Linked DNA regions of Homo sapiens: region 1 is linked to region 2. Evidence: fine-mapped expression QTL. A gene starts in region 2. The other region holds a variant in brackets. All regions are shown on one strand. Distances are from middle to middle.

Region 1 (10,213 bases), 31 kb after region 2:
AGGCTCAGCCCTCCCTCCACTGTGGCCGTCTCTGTGGCCAGTGACGCCACAGCCTGTGTCTTCTCTGTGCGGTAGCTGGGGCTGGAAGGACAGCACTGCCTTGTCCTCCCAACTCCTCCCCAAAGGCACGGTGGGCATCCCAGGCCCAGACCCCTCTGTCTGTGGCTCCTGCCTGCCAAGGGCTGCTGTGCTGTCCCGCATGGAGTGTGGTTGGCTCTTCAAGCAGGAGGCCGTGCACCTATCAGGCGGACCTGCTTCCATGTCCCTGATGGGTCACTGCAAAGCACCTCCAGCACATGGCCAGGCGAGGTAGCCCTGCAGCCCAGGGCCTGGAGGGCAGGTGTGAGCTGGCCCGGGCCTGTCCCTCCCTGGAATACAGCTTCCCAGGCTCCCACTTATGGAGAAGTCTCCTCCACACTATGGAACTGAATCCTAGAATGTGGCTTCTGAGGTTCCTACACTCGAACTGAATCCTGGAATGCGGCTTCCAAGGCTTCCAGCTATGGAGAAGACTCCACACTCTGGAACCGAATCCTGGAACGCGGCCTCCCAGGCCCCCAGCTATGGAGAAGACTCCACACTCTGGAACCGAATCCTGGAACGCGGCCTCCCAGGCCCCCAGCTATGGAGAAGACTCCACACTCTGGAACCGGATCCTGGAACGCGGCCTCCCAGCCTCCCACTTAAGGAGAAGTCTCCACACTCTGGAACCGGATCCTGGAACGTGGCCTCCCAGGCCCCCACTTAAGGAGAAGACTCCACACTCTGGAACCGAATCCTGCACACTCCATCGGTTTGGAATTTCCTTTGGCTGCTGCTCTAAGTAGCCGCTGGTGGATGACTCAGCTTCTGCCAGCCCTCGGGTGCCTGGAGGATGAGGGACTGCACACAGTGCTCACCCGCGTTGGCTCCTGAGCCCCTGCAGGTGTGGGCGGTGCCCATAGGGCTGGTGCTGGGTTGGGCCTGCAGCCCTGAGTCACAGGTGACCCTGGGGGCAGAGTGGGGCCAGTGGCCCCAGGAAGAGGATGTGGGATGCACAGCTCAGCTGGAGGCGAACTCCAGGCAGGGTCAGGCCGTGTGCTCGGAAGTCAGGGCTTAGCTGGAGGCAAACTCTGGGCAGTGCTGGCCCGTGTTGGGGAACCAGTTGCCCCTGGGCCCCCGTGAGACTGCTGGGTCCTCATCCCTCTCTGCCTGAGGCCGGAGCTGCCCTGGGCTGAGGCACAGGGGGATTTGTGGTGGTGTTTTTTTGAGAAAGGGTCTCGCTTTGTCACCCCGGCTGGAGTGCAGGGGCTTGATCACAGCTCACTGCAGCCTCAACCTCCTGGGCCCAAGTGATCCTCTTGCCTCAGCCACCCGAGGAGCTGTGAACACAGGTGTGCACCACCGCACTCAGCTAATTTTTAAAATTTTTTTGTAGAGATGAGGTCTTGCCATGTTTCCCAGGCTGGTCTCAAACTCCTGGGCTCAGGCAGTCTGCCCGCCTTGGCCTCCCAAAGTGCTGGGATTACAGGCAAGAGCTTCCATGCCTGCCCAGCAGAAGGCTTTTCGAAGGAAGCTGTTTCCTGAGGCAGACTCAGCCCTGCTCATGGCAGCCACCAGCGTGGGGGTGAACTTGTTCTGTTACTTCCATCCCCGTGGGCCAAATGCTTTGGTAAAACACAAGGCCCTGTGTTTAGCTGTCTTGACAGTGAAAATGGCTGGGAAGGAAGGAAGGAACGGAAGGAAATTTCTCTCTCCTTCTGTGCGTACCCAGGCACGTGCACATGCATGCAGAGTACGCACACACGCACGCACGCCTGCACAAATCCACGCATGTTGCCAAGTCTCTGTGTTCCAGCCGTGGTGTCTGCCCCCCGGTGTTCTCTAGTTCGGCTTCTCCGCATTTCTGTGAATGATTCCGGCTTCTTGGTGTTCCCAGCAGAACTCCCTCAAGTCTGCGGCGGGGCTCTGACGGCGGTGGCTTGGCTGACATGGCCACATTGCTGAGCCTGTTGGGGGCTTTGCGTTCCTGTTCTGGCCGTTTTTGGCTCGTTTTCCAGGAACGGTCGTCACGCGCTCCTCTCCTAGTGCAGGCATCATTCCTTTCCCATTGATTTGCAGGGTTCTCTGTAAGTTCTGAGGATCCCATATACATATACTCTCTGTAAGTTCTGAGGATCCCATATACATATTCTCTCTCTAAGTTCTGAGGATCCCATATACATATTCTCTCTCTAAGTTCTGAGGATCCCATGCCGACATACATATTCTTTCCTTGTCTCATGCTGGTCATTTTTTCCATTTTCATGACAGGTTTGGTGAACACATGTTTCCTTGTCAGATTTTTGTTCTGAGCTTGTGCCTCCCGACCAAGATGCTAAACCGGGTCTTGTGTATTCTCCAAACTGCACTGTAGAGTGACGGAGCTTTGTGTCTGGGCCTCCATGCCTTCTGACGTCACCTGTGGGGGTGTGAAAGGCAGACTCTACCTTGATTTTTCCCAGCACGCCACACCGGTGGTTCTGTGCGCTGACCGAGCGGCTCGGCTTCCCCCAACTCCACTGGGCACCTGCCACACTTTTCCTCATGTTTTTGTTCACTGTGGTTTTGTCGTAAGTCCTGGTGTTGGCCTGAACCAATTTCTTTTTGTTTGTTTTTGAGACAGAGTTTTGCTCTTGTTGCCCAGGCTGGAGTGCAGTGGCGCGATCTCGGCTCACTGCAAGCTCCGCCTCCCGGGTTCACGCCATTCTCCTGCCTCAGCCTCCCAAATACCTGGGATTATAGGCACCTGCCACCACGCCTGGCTAATTTTTTGTATTTTTAGTAGAGACGAGGTTTCACCGTGTTAGCCAGGATGGTCTCGATCTCCTGACCTCGTGATCCGCCTCCCAAAGTGCTGGGATTACAGGCATGAGCCACCGTGCCCAGCCTGATATTTTTAGTAGAAATGGGGTTTTGCCATGTTGGCCAGGCTGGTCTCGAACTCCTGACCTCAGGTGATCCTCTCACCTTGGCCTCCCAGAGTGCTGGGATTACGGGTGTGAGCCACCACGCCCGGCCTCTTGTTCTTTTGAAACCTGCCCTGACGTTTTTTCCATAGTGCATCTTGGAGTCAGCGTGTCTACTTCCTGTAAAAATCTTACTGTGATTTTGACTAGAATGTGTTGAATTCCTGTTTTTTTTTTGAGTCAGGGTCTCTCTGTTGCCCAGGCTGGAGTGCAGTGGGACCATCACAGCTCACTGCAGCCTCAACCTCCTGGGCTCAGGGGATCCTCTCAGCTCAACCTCCCAAGTAGCTGGGACCACAGGCACATGCCACCATGCCCGGCTAGGTTTTTTTTTTTTTTTTTTTGGTGAACACCCTGGGGTTGCACCATGTTGCCCAGGCTGGTCTCGAACTCCTGGGTTCGGGCAGTTTGCTCCTCTCAGCCTCCCGGAGTGCTGGGATTACAGGCCTGAGCCACTGCACTAGGCCATGTTGAATTTCTAGATTAATTTGGGGCCCTCAGGGGCACAGAGAGGAGGGCTGGGCCAGTTGGCGGGAGGAGAGGCCCCTCGGGCTGCCGCATTTTCAGTGCATGGAGATGGCCTATGTTGGGGGAACACAGAGCTCACCGGGGGTCCCTGCAGGGAGGAGAAAGGGTCAGGCAGGTGCCAGCTCCTGTCCATTGGCCTGGGGCTGCATGATGGCAGGGGCCGGTGAACCGATGACCCCTGGGTGTCCTGTGACCTTCTGTGTATGCGGCTGATGCTGCAGAAAGTCGGGTGGCCTCAGGCTCCTGACGGGGCTGCACTTCCTCTGCCTTTCAGATTGTGTTCAGTGTGGACCCCTCCGAGGGCAGCCCTGGTTCCCCAGCAGGGCTGGGGGCCTTACAGTCCTATAAGGTAGGGGCCACCTCCAGGAGGCAGGTGGAGGGCAGCCCTTGTTCCCCGGCAGGGCTGGGGGCCTTACAGTCCTATAAGGTGGGGGCCACCTCCAGGAGGCAGGTGGGGCTGGGGGTCTTCTGGTCCTAAAAGGTAAGGGGCTGCCCCCAGGACATGGGCGGGGCCTCCACACTCCTGGTCCTGTCCCCTCCAGGTGCACATCCATCCTGATGCTGGTCACCGGAGGACGGCTCAGCGGTCTGATGCCTGGAGCACCACTGCAGCCAGAAAGCGAGGTACAGACCTGGGCCCACACGCTCCCCGCCCGCCCGGGTGCAGTGCCCGGCACCACCATGCCACAGGCTAGGCACATGCCCAGCCGTGGATCTCCTGCCCCCATGGGCCTGGCCACCTTCTCCATATCCAGGCCAATCCAGAGCATTCTCCTCACTGTCCCTCTGAAGATTGGAGTTACTGAGAGACGTAGGAGATGGCCTGATGGCACCGTGACCTGCCCAGAGTCACCTGGTTGGTGGTGGCAGAGCCACAGCCCAGCCAGGCCTCCCTGCTGGGACACGCTCGTTTATGCCGAGGCCGTCAGCACAGAGCCTCCACAGTGAGGCACGGCTCTGCCTGCTGCCTCCACGCAGCGCCTGGCCGGGCCAAGCCTCAGGGTCACATCTGAAGGGGGCCCGGCTGGCCCTGTTGTCCGAAGCCCCTGGTGCGCTCAGCCCCGAGGCCCCACGTGCCTTCTTGGCTTCCTGTGCTCCGTGGCGTCTTCGAGTCGGTGCTGCCGGGGACGCTGTGTGGATGGGGTCTGTGAGTGTGCCCTCGGCTCCGTGTCCGGAGCCCTGTGGTTCTTGGGGTGTATCTGGCCCCACCCCCACTGCGTGGTGTCCAGGGTGGGGCTTCACGGCTGCAGCTGCGGGAGCTGCTGCCCCTGCCTTGTGCTCCAGTGGGGCCTTGCCTCTGGGCTTGGTTCGTCCCTCTCTGGAACATTCTTTCTCAGCTGCTGTCCGACCCATGGTGGCATGACGTGGCCCTGGCTGAAGCAGCCCTTGTGCGGTTGCTGTGGTTGGGTCTGCCTGGCCGAGCCGGAAGGGAAGGGCTGGGAGGGCGTCAGGGTGGCGTGGCTTGACCCCCGCTCGGTGATGGTCCTGCAGCAAGGCCTCTCCCAGCAGGAAGCGTCCATCCCGGGGGGAGGCCGGCGCCCCTCACGCAGTTGGGGTTGCGGGAGGCAGTGCGTGCCTGAGGCAGCCGGTGCACAGATTCCAAGGGCCTGGAATCTGTTTGTTCCATTGACCTCTGATGTCACTTGACTTCTCAGAAGCAGCCACTCCCTGCACTGGGCGTTTGTAGGAAATGAGCTCCTGGAGGAGGGGG[T/TG]GGGGAAGTTCCCCCATTGCAGGGCACACTCAGCCCCAGGAAGGAAACGTGCCTCGTCCCTGCTGACTCCGAATCGCAGTCAGAGTCGTTCTGCTTGTGCCGTGTTGAATTCCCGGCATCCGGCATCCAGACTCAGCCTCCTCCCCAGGCCACGGCCGCCGTGGCCAGTCGGTCAAGCCCTTCTAGGAACTTCCTTTGAGCTGGCGCCCTTGTTCACTGCTGACGCCACTCAGAGGCTTGTGCACGTGTCCTGCTTCCAGGCAGAGCTGGGAACTCGCACCCCGTCTTCTGCACGCGGCCGTGGAATGTCGGGATGCCGGCGCTTCCTTCCCGTGTGCTCTTGGCGGGGTGGGCTTCTTGCCCTGAGCCGCATGTCACAGTTTCTGCAGAAGTTTAGGGTTGGAGTGGGCTGACCTCTCTGCAGGTGTCCCCAGCCTCTGCCTGGGGTCTGCCTCCTACTCCCAGGACCCCCTGTCCCCCAGAGGGGCCCCAAGCTGGCAGGCTCACACTCAGGGCAGCCTCCTTTGTTCTGACTTCTGCACAGTGGGCCTGGGTGGCTGCCCGCGGCTCGCTTGCTTGATGCCAGTGGGTGGAGAGGGTGATGGGCAGAGAGGCAGGTGGTCAGGCCCCCAGTCCCGTCCTCACACTCTGTGCCCTCTGCCGCCCCCCGCCCCACAGGGAAGGTGCTGAGCTACTGGTGCTTCAGTCCCGGCCACAGCATGCACGAGCTGGTCCGCCAGGGCGTCCGCTCCCTCATCCTTACCAGCGGCACGCTGGCCCCGGTGTCCTCCTTTGCTCTGGAGATGCAGATGTACGGGCCACCCCTGCCAGGGCCTGAGCACCGGTGACACCTCTGACATCAGCGGGGTGGAAGTGGTGGGGGTCCCCATGAGCCGGGTGCTGGGGGTCTCGGGCCTCGAGGGCTAAAGGGGTGCTGGTGCACTTCCCCACTGTCTGCTCCCTCTGGCCACGCTCAGCCCTTTCCCAGTCTGCCTGGAGAACCCACACATCATCGACAAGCACCAGATCTGGGTGGGGGTCGTCCCCAGAGGCCCCGATGGAGCCCAGTTGAGCTCCGCGTTTGACAGACGGTGAGGGCCTGTCCCTGGGCCCTGCTGGGGTGGGAGGTGGGGGAGCACTGAGGCCTGAGGTCCTGAGCAGTGGCCTCTCCGGCTCTAGGTTTTCCGAGGAGTGCTTATCCTCCCTGGGGAAGGCTCTGGGTGAGTGCCCTGAATGCCCCAGCTGTGCCCATCCTGGATCCTGGACCCCTGCTCCCAAGAGCTGGTAGGGAACCCTGCAGACATCCTGCCCCTGCCTTGACCCCGGCCCCTGCACTTCCAGGCAACATCGCCCGCGTGGTGCCCTATGGGCTCCTGATCTTCTTCCCTTCCTATCCTGTCATGGAGAAGAGCCTGGAGTTCTGGCGGGTGCGTCTCCCCTGTGTTCTGGGCGGGGTGGGTGAGGGCAGGGCTGGAGCATGAAGCAGGCAGTGGTCACAGCTCCTGCTTGCCCTCATCGGATCGGCGGCGTGACCAGGGCTGCCGTGTCCCTGCCTCTTCCTCCCACAGGCCCGCGACTTGGCCAGGAAGATGGAGGCGCTGAAGCCGCTGTTTGTGGAGCCCAGGAGCAAAGGCAGCTTCTCCGAGGTCGGCACTTGGCCGGGGCTCTGGGCCTGCTGCCCCCTCGTGCCTCCCCTGCCTCTCACAGCTTCCCCAAGGCTGACCACTGGCCCTGACCATGGGCTCCGGCGGCTCCCGCTGCCTCTTCAGGGCTCCTGCGTTTCCTTCCTGGCCCTGAGTGTTGCCTCTTATCTTACAAAGCCCCCAGCACCGGGTGGGTGTGGTAACAGTGGCCCTCCTGTCTGAGTAGCCCTAGTCGGCCACCCTGGCCCTGGGGTTCCCCGTGTTTTCTGGGAAGCACTGAGCAGGCGTGGGGTCAGCCTGGGATCCGTGCCAGGAAGAAGCTTCCAGAACCCGATTGGCCTTCCTGGCTAGGACGATCCTTCATCTTGGAGCATGAGACCTGGGTCTCCCTCATGGGGGAGGAAGGGGCTGGGGGGGGGCTCCAGGCTCAGCCTCACCAACTTTCCTTCCAGACCATCAGTGCTTACTATGCAAGGGTTGCCGCCCCTGGGTCCACCGGCGCCACCTTCCTGGCGGTCTGCCGGGGCAAGGTGAGCTCTCCAGGGCCCTCTGCCCTGACCTGGTTGCCTGTTCCCTGGTGGGTGCTTATGGCTCCCCAGCAGACTCTGGGCCCTGGGGGCTGCCCGGTCCCCTCCTTGGGTCCCACGAGAGCGACTGCTGGCCCTGCTGGGAGCGTGTCCTGCTCTGGGCCTGGGCAGGCAGGATGGGAGTTTCCTGGCCACAAGAGTTGGAGGTGGCGTCTGGGAGCTGTGGACCCCAAGTGGGGTCCTGACCCACAGATGGAGCTTCCTCCCACCCCTGGTTGGGGACGGAGCCTCGGGGAAGGTGGCTGGGCTGGGTGTGGGCACCAGGGAGAGGAGCCCCCACGGCCCCAGGCAGCTCCCTGGTGTGTCCCCTAGGCCAGCGAGGGGCTGGACTTCTCAGACACGAATGGCCGTGGTGTGATTGTCACGGGCCTCCCGTACCCCCCACGCATGGACCCCCGGGTTGTCCTCAAGATGCAGTTCCTGGATGAGATGAAGGGCCAGGGTGGGGCTGGGGGCCAGGTGAGTTACAGCAGGGTGGGGCTGGGGTAAGGCGGTCTGGTGACTGAGCCCCCGCCCCGTGGCCAAGGGAGCCCCCGTGACCGAGCCGCCTCGCCCCACAGTTCCTCTCTGGGCAGGAGTGGTACCGGCAGCAGGCGTCCAGGGCTGTGAACCAGGCCATCGGGCGAGTGATCCGGCACCGCCAGGACTACGGAGCTGTCTTCCTCTGTGACCACAGGTGCGTGCAGTCCGGTGGCAGGCGCGGCGCCAGGGGACACGCCCACACCCCACTGGGCCCCTGGACTCTCCTTCCCCACATGAGGCCCCGTCTCCTCCAGAGCCTCTCCGGCTACTCGGGGTCAGCGTGGGGCCCCTGCAGCAGATGAGGGTCTTCACTTCGGTGAACTGAACCCTTGAAGCGGCTGTGGGCAGGGCAGCAGGGCTATGGCCACCCCCCAGGTTCGCCTTTGCCGACGCAAGAGCCCAACTGCCCTCCTGGGTGCGTCCCCACGTCAGGGTGTATGACAACTTTGGCCATGTCATCCGAGACGTGGCCCAGTTCTTCCGTGTTGCCGAGCGAACTGTGAGTTCCTGCCCAGGGAGGGGATGAGGGTGTTGTCCCCAGAGGAGCCAGAAATGGGTCCACCCACCCCCATGGTTCTGCAGATGCCAGCGCCGGCCCCCCGGGCTACAGCACCCAGTGTGCGTGGAGAAGATGCTGTCAGCGAGGCCAAGTCGCCTGGCCCCTTCTTCTCCACCAGGAAAGCTAAGAGTCTGGACCTGCATGTCCCCAGCCTGAAGCAGAGGTCCTCAGGTGCGGACGGGCAGCGCTGGGTGGGCGGTGTGGGGGTGGCGGAGCGGGCGGCGTGGGGCGGGCAGCACCAGGCGCCCAGGGCGGAGGCGACTCACCTGGCTTTGTGCGCTTCCCCTCCCACCTCCAAAGGCTGCCTCTCCCTCCTAGGGCAGGGCCCCCACGGGCTGCAACCCTCCCCTACAGGCAGAGAACGCCCCAGGCAAGGATGCCCCCCGAGGCTGAGACTCCCCCCAATAGCAGGGAGGACACCCACAGGCAGGACCCCAAGTGCTGGGACTCTCCCCCAAGAGGGGCTTTGCCACAGGCAGGGACCCCAGCTGGGGCCCCCCGTGGGCTTCACTGCGCACTCGGGTGCCCCTGCAGGGTCACCAGCTGCCGGGGACCCCGAGAGTAGCCTGTGTGTGGAGTATGAGCAGGAGCCAGTTCCTGCCCGGCAGAGGCCCAGGGGGCTGCTGGCCGCCCTGGAGCACAGCGAACAGCGGGCGGGGAGCCCTGGCGAGGAGCAGGTACAGTTCCAGGGCCTTGGGATGGACACAGACCCTCTGTCTCCTGAGGCCAACCCGACCCCGCCCATCTGGCCTCAGGCACCTCCCCACACACCCCTGTAAATCCCCTGCCTGGCAGGCAGGCGGGCAAGCGGGCGGGGGATCCCAGCTGCCTGGCTGTCTGTGGGTCCTCCACCCCACCTCACCCACAGGCTGCTGGCTCCCAGGTGGTGCATGCCCTGGCCCTCCGCGGGTGCCCCCCACATCACTTTGGTTCTCTGGCGGGTCAGCTTGGCTCAGTGCACTCAAGGTCGGGTGCCCCTGCCACTGGCTGCGCTTGAGGCTGGCCTTTCTCCAGGAATGTGCTGCGGGTGGAACCCAGGTTCCTTCTTCCTTGGGGCCTTTTGCCCCAGAAGCCCATAATTCCTCAGGCCAACCCGAAATTTTCTCCCTGCTTCCTGCTGGGAGCCATTCCCCTCTTCCTGCCCATCCCTGCCCTTCAGGCCCCTGGAGTGAGCTCCAGGTGCAGGCACCAGGCACCTGTGTCCCCTTCCTGCCAGCCCCTCGCTGTGGTCGGACTGTCTTCCCTGGACCTGCTCTTACAAGTCACCACCTGCGAGCCTCATGAGCCGCTGGTGTGACTTGGACAGGACCAAGTTGTGGCACTGTCACCGGGGTGTGCTGTGCCCCCCTCCCCCGACCTCCATCTTGGCTCAGGGCTCCTTGGGACCATCTTCCCTGTGCGTCCAGGTGCTTTGGGACCCCAGAGTGTGTGGTTGGGGTCTGTGTGTGGTTGTGAGCTGTGTCCTCCTCAGGCCCACAGCTGCTCCACCCTGTCCCTCCTGTCTGAGAAGAGGCCGGCAGAAGAACCGCGAGGAGGGAGGAAGAAGATCCGGCTGGTCAGCCACCCGGTGCGTGAGCTGTCCCTGCACCTGTGCCGACCACCATAGACACGCATGGGAACGCAGCCGTGGGTGCCCCCAGCCACGGCTGGTCCCGATGGGACCAGGGAATCCACCC
Region 2 (11,810 bases):
TCCCCAGTTCAAGTGATTCTCCTGCCTCAGCCTCCCAAGTAGCTAGAATTACAGGCACATGCCACCATGCCCAGCTAATTTTCTGTATTTTTAGTAGAGATGAGGTTTCACCATGTTGGCCAGGCTGGTCTTGAACTCCTGACCTCCGGTGATCTGCCCACCTCAGCCTCCCAAAGTGCTGGGATGACAGGCGTGAGCCCCCGCGCCTGGCCCCCCGCAGTGCTGGGATTACAGGCGTGAGCCCCCGCGCCCGGCCCCTCCCTCTCTTTGACTCCCTTCTTTCTCACCGCCCCCTCCCCACCATCCTTCCCCTTCACTGACTTCAGGGAGTTAAAAACAATTCTCGCAGTGAGCTGGGCTTGTTTTGTCTCCCTGCTTCTCTTTGTACTAAACATTAGATACCGAGGAAATGCGGATTGGCCTTTGGATGATTCATGAGCAGGAGTCAGAAAAAGGCACCAGGTTGGCCTCAAGCAGCAGGGTATAGTAGTGCCCGCTCCCAGGGTCACACCTCACGCCCACCCCTCCCGCCGTCCAGGTGGATGGTGCCCACTCCCAGGGTCACACCTCACGCCCACCCCTCCCGCCGTCCAGGTGGATGGTGCCCACTCCCAGGGTCACACCTCACGCCCACCCCTCCCGTCGCCCAGGTGGATGGTGCCCACTCCCAGGGTCACACCTCACGCCCGCCCCTCCCACCCACCCGGGTGGATGGTGCCCGCTCCCAGGGTCACACCTGACGCCCACCCGGGTGGATGGTGCCCGCTCCCAGGGTCACACCTCACGCCCACCCCTCCCGCCCGCCCGGGTGGATGGTGCCCGCTCCCAGGGTCACACCTCACGCCCACCCCTCCCGCCGTCCAGGTGGATGGTGCCCACTCCCAGGGTCACACCTCACGCCCACCCCTCCCGCCGCCCAGGTGGATGGTGCCCACTCCCAGGGTCACACCTCACACCCACCCCTCCCGCCCACCCGGGTGGATGCCCTTATCAGCTCTCCTTCTCCTTCTCTTTCGTCTTCTTCGTCTTCCTCCTCTTCTTTCTTCTTTTTTTTTTTTTTTAGAAAGAGTTTCTACTCTTGCTGCCCAGGCTGGAGTGCAATGGCACAATCTCAGCTCACTGCAACCTCCCTCTCCCCGGGTCAAGCAATTATCCTGCCTCAGTCTCCCAGATTGCTGGGATCACAGGAGTGTGTCACCACACCTGGCTAATTTTGTACTTTTAGCAGAGAGGGGGGATTTCACCATGTTGGCCAGGCTAGTCTCGAACTCTTGACCTCAGTTTATCCACCGGCCTCAGCCTCTCAAAGTGCTGGGATTACAGGCATGAGCCACCCTATCTGCCTCACTTCTACAGAGGAGGAATGAAGGCTCAGAGAGGGCAAGCATTCCACCCAGCATCACACAGAGTGCCGGGTGAGAGCCCAGTCATGAGCCTGGGCCTGACTGCAGGCTCCTGTTGGGAGCTCGCGGAGGTGGGGGATCTGTCCAGAACTGAGAGGCCAGGGGACCACAGTGGCCTCTGACCCCTGGAGGGCCCTGGAGGCTGCTGCCGGCTCCCCCCGGGGGCAGATGGAGGTCACTGTCACCCAGGCTGCTTCTCATGGTGCCAGGAGCACAGCATGGCAGGAGCCACCAGCCGATTTGCCTTTCCCTGGGCAGGAAACTCAGAAATGTGGCTACCACAGTCAGGCTGCTTGACGTGCGGTGAGCACTCATCTCTTAGCAGGCAAGCGGCCAAGCACCTTTCCTGAAATATTGAGGCCTCAGAACAAGCCCCAGGAGAGGTGCCAGCACCGTCATCTCTACCCAGATAAGGAGACCCAGGTCCTGAGAGGTTAGGCAGCTCGGACAACACCACACAGCTGGAGGAGGTCAGACTCTGGGTTGCAGAAGGAGAATGTGAGCAGAGGCCACAAAAGAGCGAGGAGCCAGTGCCCAGATGCCGAGATGCCCTCGCCCTCCCAGCTCAGCCCCAGGAACCGAGCCCATGGGGAGGGACCGTCAGGGAAAGGCTGTCAGGAAGGGCAGGAGGCGGCCCTGGAGAGGACGGCGCTGCCCTCAGGGGCAGGAGGGGAGTCCCCTCCGCTGAGAGCCCCCCCACCCCCAGTATCCCCGGGGGTGTCCAGGAGGAGGCGGAGGGAGGAAGCGCAGATGGACAGGACTCCCAGATAGGGTGGGGAGGTGTGGCCGGTGACACACACGGTCCCCTCCTGGCAGGTGCTGAAGTCACCTGGAGCCTCCAAGCCCGTGGGGCCTGAGGGGCGGGGTCAGGTCGGGCACGCGTGGGTGGGCGGAGTTCTGCGCCCCGGGCCAAGGCGCCCGAGTTGAACCAGTCAGCTCGGGAGAGGGACCGCGGCGACCTGTCCCGGGGGCGTAAGAAAAGGTGGGAGGGAGTGCGGCTCGTGAACGGGGGCGGCGATGGGAAGGAGGTGCGGCCCTTCGTCCTGTCCTCCCAAACGTCGAGTGAAAAACGAAGCGGGTTCTGCGGCCTCGCGGCGGAGCAGAGCGTTTCGGGAAGGGCGGGCCCAGCGTCCTCGCGCCCGAGGTCGCCCGGCAGCTCCCCTGCGTCCAGAATCCGCCCCCCGCCCGGGCCTGCGCCCGCCCCTCCGCCTGAGCTCCGCGCGGGACGGGCCGGGAGGCCGGGGTGGGCGCTACCTTCGAAGGCGGTGGGTCCGCCCCGCGGGAGGTGGAGGGGCGGGAGGGGCGGAGCCCTCTGGTCTCCGGAGGGTTTGGGGATCGCAGTCGCCCCTCCCCCATCCAGACCCCGCGGCGCAAAGGGCAGTGGCTTTTCTGGCCAGAGCAGGTGGCGCGGGCGTCGCAAAGGGTGGTCCCCGAGGCCGCAGCGGTGTGGGGGGAGGGCGCGGTCCCCCTCACTCCGGGCTCCGCCGTGTCTGGCCCGCCCCCCTCCTTCAGCGCCCCCTCCAGCCCCTGTGCTGCACTGGCGCGGGGAGCGCCGGGTTCCCGGCTGGGGCTTTGGCAGAGGGTCCCACCCTCTCCCCGCCTCCCCACGAAGGCTCTGGCGGACCCAGATCTCGGGTCGCCGGACGCCCCAGGGACCCCGCCCGCACATCGCGAGCGCGCCCACCCGGTCGCGAGCCCACGCCCGGGTCTGGGAGCCACCCTGCGGCAGTCGCGCCCTGCGTGGCACGCTGCTCCCCCAGGGGCGAGGCGCCCCCGCCCGACGTCCCGGTCCCGAGCGCTCCCCGGCGCGGCGCCTCGCAGCCCAGCGCCCCACCAGCCCCGCCGGCGCCGCAGACCCCAGCCTCGGGCGGGTCGGGCCCAGGCTTGCAACGCGCAGGGTAGGAGAAGGGAAATTGGCGTCCGCTGCCGGCCGCTGCCCCAGGCGAGGCCAGACGAGGCCTCTGCTCAGATCCCGCCGCCCCACAAAGCCCGTGGCCCCGGAGCCTACCGGAAATGGTGCTGGCCATGGTGCTGGCGGCGGTTGGGCCTGCGGAGGCTGGAGAGGCGCAAGTGGCGGCCGGAGCTGCAGACGGCTGGTGCTGCAGTGCCGGGGAGGGGAGGGGAGAGGAGTGGAGGGAGCGAGGGCGGGCGGGAGGCGGGCGCGGCGGGAGAGAGAGAGGGAGGGAGACAGAGGGAGAGAGAGAGAGGGTTGGGGGAAGGAGCGGGGGGAGGAGGGAGGGAGGGTTGGGGGAAGGAGAGAGAGAGAGAGAGAGACTGCGGGGGCGGGGGAAGGAGGGAGGGAGGAAGGGAGGGAGGAAGAGAGAGAGGAGCAAGCGCCTGGCTGCGGAAGGGGCCGCGGCTCTCAGGGGGAGAGGGCGGAGGAGGGGGGCTACCCGAACTGCAACAAGACCCCCCACCCTCCAACCGCTCACAGCGGGACAGCTGCTTCTCCAACTTGGCTTTGTGAGGCCTGAGAGTGGGGTGGGGGTGGAGATGAGCCCCCATTCCCCAGGGCAGGCGGGGCAGGGGCAATGCCGGAGGAGCAGGTCCCACCCATGGGGTGGGGCCGCAGAGCTCTTCGCCGCCAAGGCCGCTGTAGGCTGGGCTGGCGCCAACAGGGTCCAGGTCTGTGCCTGCCATCGGAGAGGATGCCACAGCCACAGGGGTGGGCGCTGGCCTGGAGGCCTCCAAGGGGCATCTCCTGTGAGCCCAGGGGATGGGCAGGATCTGAGCGGAGAAGAGTGAAAGTGGAGGAGTGAGGCCAGAACAAAGGCTTTGCCGTGAAAGAGGTGGTTTCCCGCCTGGGCTCAGACCTTCACTCACTGTGTGGCCCAGGCCAAGGGCAAGCGTCTGACCTCGCTGGGCCTTTGTTTCTCAGGGGTAAGATGAAACAATGATGCCCCCAGACGATGGAGAGGAGGGGTGCCAGGGTTGTGCGCACTTAGTGAGTGGGGGGCAACCTATCCTGCCTCCCCCTCTCCTCATAACTCCCAAAGGGAAAGCCTGGTAGGCAAACGGAGCGTCTTTGCCATTGCAGGGATGAAGCCACCGAGGCAGGGAGAAAAGTGCTTTGCCCTACAAGCAACTAAGTCATAGGGCCAGGAGCAAAACCCTGAAAACCTCAGGAGACTTGCAGAGCCATGAGGCTGGCTCAGCAACACAAAAGCCAGGGGCAAGCCTCAGCTCTAGCAGTGCGGTGGGAGCACCCAAGGCCAGTCACATCCTAGGGTGGCCTGGAGAGTCCTGACCCCTGACGTGCAAGCCGGCATCATCCCCGGGACTGTGAGTCTGGTGGGGGTGATGCCCAGGAATGTGACATTGTGTGGCCCAGAGGTACCCTTAAGACTGGAGGATCACCAGGCGGGCCCTGACCTCATCACAGGAGCCCTTTAAAAGCAGTTTCCTTTGCCTGGTTGAAGAAATCGGAGGGATCAAACCAAAGAAGGTTTTCTGTTGTTGAGATGAGGGGGCCACGTGGCAAGGATCTGAGAACTGCTCCCAGCCAACAGCCAGCAAGACAACAAGACCTTAACTGCAAGGAAGTGAGTTCTGCCAACAAGAAGAGAATGGGCTTGGAGGCAGGTTTGACCCCAGGGCCTCCACACAAGAACTGAGCCCAACTGCCCACTTGGTTTCAGCCTTGGGTTACTAAGAATTAGGAGGTAATGAATGAGAGTTGTTTTAAGCTGTTGGTTTTGTGGTGATTTGCTATGAAGCCATATCAAACTAATATACACACAGAGGTGTTGGCCCCTGGGCCATTCCTAGGAAGCCAGCTCTGCGAAGGAGGAAGAAGGGCAGAGAGGCACACAGAGCTGCCCACCACAGCAGCTGTGTCCTCCCTGTTGGCCACCACAGTAGCAGTTGGGGATGGTCAGCATCCTTCAGGCAGACTCCAGCCCCGGGTGCTGGAGCTCAGGTGCTAGGGATCAAGAGAAGTAGCCCTCTCTGGGACCTCCAGAGTCTTCTCATGTGGGTGGGGTAGGACCCACCCAGTCAGGCTCAGAGCACCGCAATGCCTCACACTCATTGTGACTCTGGCCAGGCCCTCTCTGAGCCTCTGTGTCCTCATCTGGAGCACAGGGACCAGGTGTGTGGAAGCCCGTGGCATAGTGCCAGGAACACAGTAGATGTGCACAGTGTGCACTAGCAGGAACACACAACAGGGGTACTGACTGTCAGCACCTAGGCAGGCACACGCAATGGGGTACTGACTGTCAGCCATACTGACTGTCAGCGTGCTAGCAGGCATACACAACAGCTGTACTGACAGCACACTAGCAGGCACATGCCATAGGTGTACTGACTCTCAGTGCACTGGCAGGCACACGCAATAGGAGTAATGACAGCATGCTGGCAGGCACACAATAGCTGTACTGACTGTTTGCCCCAATATAGTGCCAGGTCTTGGAGCAGATTTTGACTTCTCACCAAGATCAAATGCAGAAAGTGCACGAGCATTTCAAAGATGTTTTTCACATGCACATTAGTGCTAGTTAAAAAAATGTTTTGACTGGGTGCAGTGGCTCACAACTGTAATCCCAACACTTTGGGGGGCCGAGGTGGGCAGATCACCTGAGGTCAGGAGTTTGAGACCAGCCTGGCCAACATGGTGAAACCCCATCTACCCTAAAAATACAAAAATTAGCCAGGTGTGGTGGCAGGTGCCTGTAATCTCAGCTACTTTGGAGGCTGAAGCAGGAGAATCACTTGAATCCAGGAGGCAGAGGTTGCAGTGAGCCGAGATCCCACCACTGCACTCCAGCCTGGGCAACAATATCAAGACTCCACCTCAAAAAAAAAAATGTTTTTCATAAAGTGTGACTTTTATCAGACCTCTGCATTCTTGAAATTAACTCTGGCTTGGCTGGGCGTGGTGGCCCACACCTGTAATCTTAACACTTTGGGAGGCTGAGGTGGGCAGATCACGAGGTCAGGAGTTCAAGACCAGCCTGACCAACATGATGAAACCCCATCTCTACTAAAAATACAAAAATTAGCCGGGCGTGGTGGCATGCACCTGTAATCCCAGCTACTCAGGAGGCTGAGGCAGGAGAATCGCTTGAACCCAGGAGGTGGAGGTTGCAGGGAGCCGAGATCGCACCACTCTATTCCAGCCTGGGCGACAGAGCAAGACTCTGTCTCAAAAAAAAAAAAGAAAGAAAGAAATTAACTCTGGCTCCTAGAAGGAGCCCTATATCTCAGCAGGACACTCAGTCATTCAACAGACATCTGTCAAGCACCTGCTGTATGCTGGAGCTGTGGGTACGTCAGCAATTAGAGGAAGAGGGCAGGGGTACAGGAGTTCCTGACCACCCCAGGCCAGCACGCTCCTATAGCAGCTGGCAAGGAGCAGATGACTCAGACTTCAGCTCAGTCCACAGGACAGCCTTTTCTGGCCACTGCTCTCAGGAGATGAGATGTGTGGCTGCAAAAGGTAAACTCCTGGCTCCTGAGCAGGCTCTGGGCAATCTGCTCAACGCTCTGTGCCTCACTTTCTCACCCAGAAAGTGTGGACAATGAGAGGACTTATCTGGCTGGGCGCGGTGGCTCACGCCTGTAATCCCAGCACTTTGGGAGGCCGAGGCGGGTGGATCACCTGAGGTCAGGAGTTCAAGACCTGCCTGGCCAACACGGTCAAACTCCATCTCTACTAAAAATATAAAAAATTAGCCGGGCTTAGTGGTGCACACCTGTAATCCCAGCTACTTGAGAGGCTGAGGCAGGAGAATCACTTGAACCCAGGAGGTGGAGGTTGCAGTGAGCCAAGATTGTGCCACTGCACTCCAGCCTGGGCAAAAAGCCAAAACTCTGTCTCAAAGAAAAAAGAATCATGGCAGAAGGTGAAGTCTATGTTAGTCCCAGTTCCCAGGTCGTACATGGCGGCAGGAGAAAGAGAGAGAGAAGGGGAAACTGCCACTTTTAAACCATCGGGTCTCCTGAGCACTCACTGTCAGAACAGCCTGGAGGAAACTGACCGCATGATCCAACCACCTCCCTCCAGGTCCCTCCCTCCACACGTGGGGATTACAATTCGAGGTGAGACTTGGGTGGAGACACAGAGCCGAACCATATCAGCATGTATGGGGGGCACTGAAACTTGTGCTTGGTGCCCATTCATTCAACGAGTGTGTGTGGCTGGTCTCCTCATCTTCAACTCCCTGCCGAGTCTCAGATAGGCAGCCTGCAGTTCCTTCACCACAACAGGCACATGGGGCTGGGTGCCAGTGAGTGCTGGGGCTTCTCCGAGCACTATCTCACACCCAGGAGCGTGGGCACGCATGGCATTCGCATGTGCCGTCAGTGGACATTAAACACAGCCATGAAGAAGCCACGAAGAAGTGCTGCCTGCCGGCCGTGCGCGGTCACGCAGCGCCAACTCCCTCCTGGGGCCTTCTGGGGCCTTCTGGGGCATGGGAGCTGGGGCCGCCTGAGACAAACATCCGTGACGCTGGGCTGACCCCACAGAACGGTGCGGGCCTCGCTCTTGGAGTCAGCCCTGCTGCCAGCCAGTGCCGGGTGCTGGGGACTCAGGGAGGCCCGCCGGGACCACTGCGGGACAGTGAGCCGAGCAGAAGCTGGAACGCAGGAGAGGAAGGAGAGGGGGCGGTCAGGGCTCTCAGGAGCCGGGTCCTGGGCAAGGCGCAGCCGTTTTCAAATTTTCAGGAAAGCGGTCGGCTCACACTCGAGCAGTAAAAAGATGCCTCTGGGGAGGAGGCCCGTGCAGCTCTCCGGGCAATGGTGGTGGCTCGGCCTAGAGAGGCGGTAGTGGAACGCAGACCCTGGTGGGGGAATGACATCAAGGGAGGAGACGGGCGGGACCCCAGATTTCTGCCTGTGGGCGATGGAAGTGAGGTTCACTGGCCAGCGGAGCCGGACACAGAACGCGCAAAACGCCGTGTAGGCCTGGAGGAGCCGAAGAGCAGGCGGACCCCCTCCGCGGGGGAACAGTTTCCGCCGGGAGCACAAAGCAACGGACCGGAAGTGGGGGGCGGAAGTGCAGTGGGCTCAGCGCCGACTGCGCGCCTCTGCCCGCGAAAACTCTGAGCTGGCTGACAGCTGGGGACGGGTGGCGGCCCTCGACTGGAGTCGGTTGAGTTCCTGAGGGACCCCGGTTCTGGAAGGTTCGCCGCGGAGACAAGTGAGCAGTGAGTCGCAGTGACCCTACAAGTGGTTCTTTTACCCGAGCGGCTCGTAGGCGCGTTGCGGTTTTTCGAAACTACAGCTCCCGGCAGGCCCCAAGCCGCCCTCGGGGCCGCGGGTCGGCGGATTGGCCGCGCTGCATTTTGGGACCTGTAGTTTCCTGCGCTCGTGGCGCTGGCGCCGCGGCGTTGGCTGAGCCCTTGACCGGGGCTGGAGGGAAGGGCCGACATTCAGTGTGTCCGCGTCTGTTCTGTTAGTCCCAGTTCCCGGGCGGGATTGAGGCTTAGAGAAGTTGAGTGATTTGCTGAGGGCTGCACGGGTTGGCATCCCGGCATGCTCTTTCGCTACTTTGGCTGCATCTGGTTGCCCACCCGGGCGGATGGGGAATGGACTCCAGCCAGCCAGGAGGGCAGAGGGCTGGAGAGGCAGGGCCGGAGGTTCAGACCCTCCGCTCTGACGTTGCGCCTGGTGAGGCCGGGAGGGGTGCCGCTTGCCTCTTCAGCCCTCACGCTCTTGTGGAAGTCGCGGAATTACTGCAGGCGGAACTTGCAGCACTGTGGGCGTCTTTTCCAGAGAAGGACGGAGTTGTGGGGCGGGAGGATAAGGCAAGGCCCAGCCACTTCGCATCTTCGCCCCGCCAGCTCCTCGAGATGGGATATACCAGGGTTGCTCTCCAACCCTCTCCGCAGGAGGGACTGATGGAAACGCCTGGGAAAGTAGCCCGGTACCCACAAAGGCTGTCTACAAACAGAGTCTTACTGTCTTTCCCAGGTCTGTGCCATAGGGATTCTCGAAGAGAACAGCGTTGTGTCCCAGTGCACATGCTCGCATCGCTTACCAGGAGTGCCCGAGACCCTAAGATGTTCGGAGTGGTTTTTTCGCACAGACCCGAATAGCCTGCCCCTCAGCCACGCTCTGTGCCCTTCTGAGAACAGGCTGATATGCCCAAGATAGTCCTGAATGGTGTGACCGTAGACTTCCCTTTCCAGCCCTACAAATGCCAACAGGAGTACATGACCAAGGTCCTGGAATGTCTGCAGCAGGTAGAGCACAGGCCCCGAGGAAAGGACTGCGGGTGGGTGGAGCTTCAGCCAGGACGGGGTGTGCTTCCCTCTCCCGGCCCATTCCAGCCAGGCCCCTCCGGGCCAGAGGCAGCGTCTGTCATAAAAAGGGCTGGTGTTCCAGGTGGGGTCAGAGAGAGGATTGACAAGTAAAAACGATCGTCCTTTGAAGGGGGCCGGCCCCTCCACACCTGTGGGTATTTCTCATCAGGCGGGACGAGAGACTGAGAAAATGAATAAGACACAGAGACAAAGTATAGAGAGAAAAGTGGGCCCAGGGGACCGGCGCTCAGCATACAGAGGACCTGCACCGGCACCAGTCTCTGAGTTTCCTCAGTATTCATTAATTACTATTTTCACTATCTCAGCAAGAGGAATGCGGCAGGACAGCAAGGTGATAGTGGGGAGAAGGTCAGCAAGAAAACGTGAGCAAAGGAATCTGGGTCACAAATAAGTTCAAGGGAAGGTACTATGCCTGGATGTGCACGTAGGCTAGTTTTATGCTTTTCTCCACCCAAACATCTCGGTGGAGTAAAGAGTAACAGAGCAGCATTGCTGCCAATATGTCTCGCCTCCTGCCACAGGGCGGCTTTTCTCCTATCTCAGAATTGAACAAATGTACAATCGGGTTTTATACCGAAACATTCAGTTCCCAGGGGCAGGCAGGAGACAGTGGCCTTCCTCTATCTCGACTGCAAGAGGCTTTCCTCTTTTACTAATCCTCAGCACAGACCCTTCACGGGTGTTGGGCTGGGGGACTGTCAGGTCTTTCCCATCCCACGAGGCCATATTTCAGACTATCACATGGAGAGAAACCTTGGGCAATACCCGGCTTTCCAGGGCAGAGGTCCCTGCGGCTTTCCGCAGTGCATCGTGCCCCTGGTTTATCGAGACTGGAGAATGGCGATGACTTTTACCAAGCATACTGCCTGTAAACATATTGTTAACAAGGCACGTTCTGCACAGCTCTAGATCCCTTAAACCTTGATTCCATACAACACATGTTTCTGTGAGCTCAAGGCTGGGGCAAAGTTACAGATTAACAGCATCTTAGGGCAAAGCAATTGTTCAGGGTACAGGTCAAAATGGAGTGTGTTATGTCTTCCCTTTCTACATAGACACAGTAACAGTCTGATCTCTCTTTTCCCTACAGTCCTTGAGGGTGACAGACTTAGGAGTGCCTTGGGGGCCTCTCTGAGGAGCAGCTGATATTCACGGGTCAGGAGGAAGCATTTCCATTAGAGGGGCAGCCGGTGGCCAGCCTCACTTGGAAGGTCTTTGAACCTCGGGGGTGCAGGGAGGTGGCAGTGGTGCAGGTTGCCTTCTCCTGGGTTCCTTGAGGTGCCCTCTTGTACCCGGCTCACACCCTTCCCCTCCCCGAGTTTCCTGCTCAGGTTCCCGTCTGAGAGCTTGTATGTAGGACGTCAGATAGGACAGCATAAATGTTTGGATCCAGAAACGCAGAACAGTTTCCTATTTTGAGACTTGACACCTAATTAGTCATCTTACTATTTAAGCTGAAAAATAGTGTCGTGTTTTGGGTAACGTTCTGCAAATCGTTTGCTAATGGCGGCTGAGTTGCTTCACGCCCTTTAGGGCAAGAGTGGGACTTGCCTGTGGACTTCTCCGCGGTCCCACAGGGCTCTCGCCACCTGGCAGTGGCCTCTGCATCTGCAAAGAGCTGCCCGCTGGCTGCCGAAGCTTGTCTCAGGGCAGCTTGTGTGGCCTCGCCTCTTCCTGGCTTCCCCGTAACCCTTGCTCCGAACTCCGTTCAGAAGGTGAATGGCATCCTGGAGAGCCCTACGGGTACAGGGAAGACGCTGTGCCTGCTGTGCACCACGCTGGCCTGGCGAGAACACCTCCGAGACGGCATCTCTGCCCGCAAGATTGCCGAGAGGGCGCAAGGAGAGCTTTTCCCGGATCGGGCCTTGTCATCCTGGGGCAACGCTGCTGCTGCTGCTGGAGACCCCATAGGTGACCCTAGTTCCCAGGCCTCTCCTGGCCTCCTGTGGGGATGGTTGGCAAGGGATGGCGCTGAGGGTGGGGTGGGCCCATGGGGACTCCTGCCGTCTCTCAAGCAGAACTCAAGGAGAATTTTTTAGCTGCTGTATAATTTCTCGCCATCGTGGGTGTAAACCTAGGGTTGGGCTTTTTTGCTGAATTAGGGCACGGCAGATGCCCACTTCACCCATTTTTGATAAAC

Which allele goes with the higher level. Alleles are on the strand shown, and positions count from the first base shown. SD is a standard deviation of normalised expression in the study named.
For the expression in monocytes after Pam3CSK4 of the gene that starts at base 7,895 in region 2, allele T in region 1 goes with a higher level than allele TG (large effect, 1.8 SD a copy in Quach 2016).

Evidence for each region. PIP is the estimated chance that this variant, and not a neighbour inherited with it, causes the effect.
Region 1: its variant is fine-mapped to the expression of RTEL1-TNFRSF6B in monocytes after Pam3CSK4 (Quach 2016, PIP 0.95).

Annotation. Positions count from the first base shown.
Region 1 is chr20:63,681,734-63,691,946 of GRCh38, forward strand. RTEL1 (regulator of telomere elongation helicase 1) reads left to right here. Exons shown (of 35, transcript NM_001283009.2): 15 at 3,790-3,864; 16 at 4,058-4,139; 17 at 5,905-6,037; 18 at 6,204-6,317; 19 at 6,406-6,446; 20 at 6,568-6,653; 21 at 6,795-6,872; 22 at 7,322-7,399; 23 at 7,769-7,915; 24 at 8,017-8,132; 25 at 8,354-8,477; 26 at 8,561-8,708; 27 at 9,072-9,214; 28 at 10,009-10,104. It overlaps RTEL1-TNFRSF6B (RTEL1-TNFRSF6B readthrough (NMD candidate)), which reads left to right. Exons shown (of 38, transcript NR_037882.1): 15 at 3,790-3,864; 16 at 4,058-4,139; 17 at 5,905-6,037; 18 at 6,204-6,317; 19 at 6,406-6,446; 20 at 6,568-6,653; 21 at 6,795-6,872; 22 at 7,322-7,399; 23 at 7,769-7,915; 24 at 8,017-8,132; 25 at 8,354-8,477; 26 at 8,561-8,708; 27 at 9,072-9,214; 28 at 10,009-10,104. Among named protein-coding and RNA genes, the nearest start is that of TNFRSF6B, 9.8 kb to the right of the region's middle. RefSeq lists enhancers at 255-979, 1,706-2,430, 7,516-7,660 and a cis regulatory region at 7,588. The variant T/TG (reference allele first, on the strand shown) is at 5,227.
Region 2 is chr20:63,649,916-63,661,725 of GRCh38, forward strand. RTEL1-TNFRSF6B (RTEL1-TNFRSF6B readthrough (NMD candidate)) reads left to right here and starts at 7,895. Exons shown (of 38, transcript NR_037882.1): 1 at 7,895-8,551; 2 at 9,318-9,589; 3 at 11,383-11,581. It overlaps RTEL1 (regulator of telomere elongation helicase 1), which reads left to right and starts at 8,397. Exons shown (of 35, transcript NM_001283009.2): 1 at 8,397-8,551; 2 at 9,318-9,589; 3 at 11,383-11,581. The coding sequence starts at 9,488. It overlaps STMN3 (stathmin 3), which reads right to left and starts at 3,509. Exons shown (of 5, transcript NM_015894.4): 1 at 3,412-3,509. The coding sequence starts at 3,430. RefSeq lists enhancers at 3,489-4,168, 4,169-4,847, 8,092-8,331, 8,362-8,451, 8,472-8,631 and 3 more and silencers at 3,187-3,276, 3,297-3,346.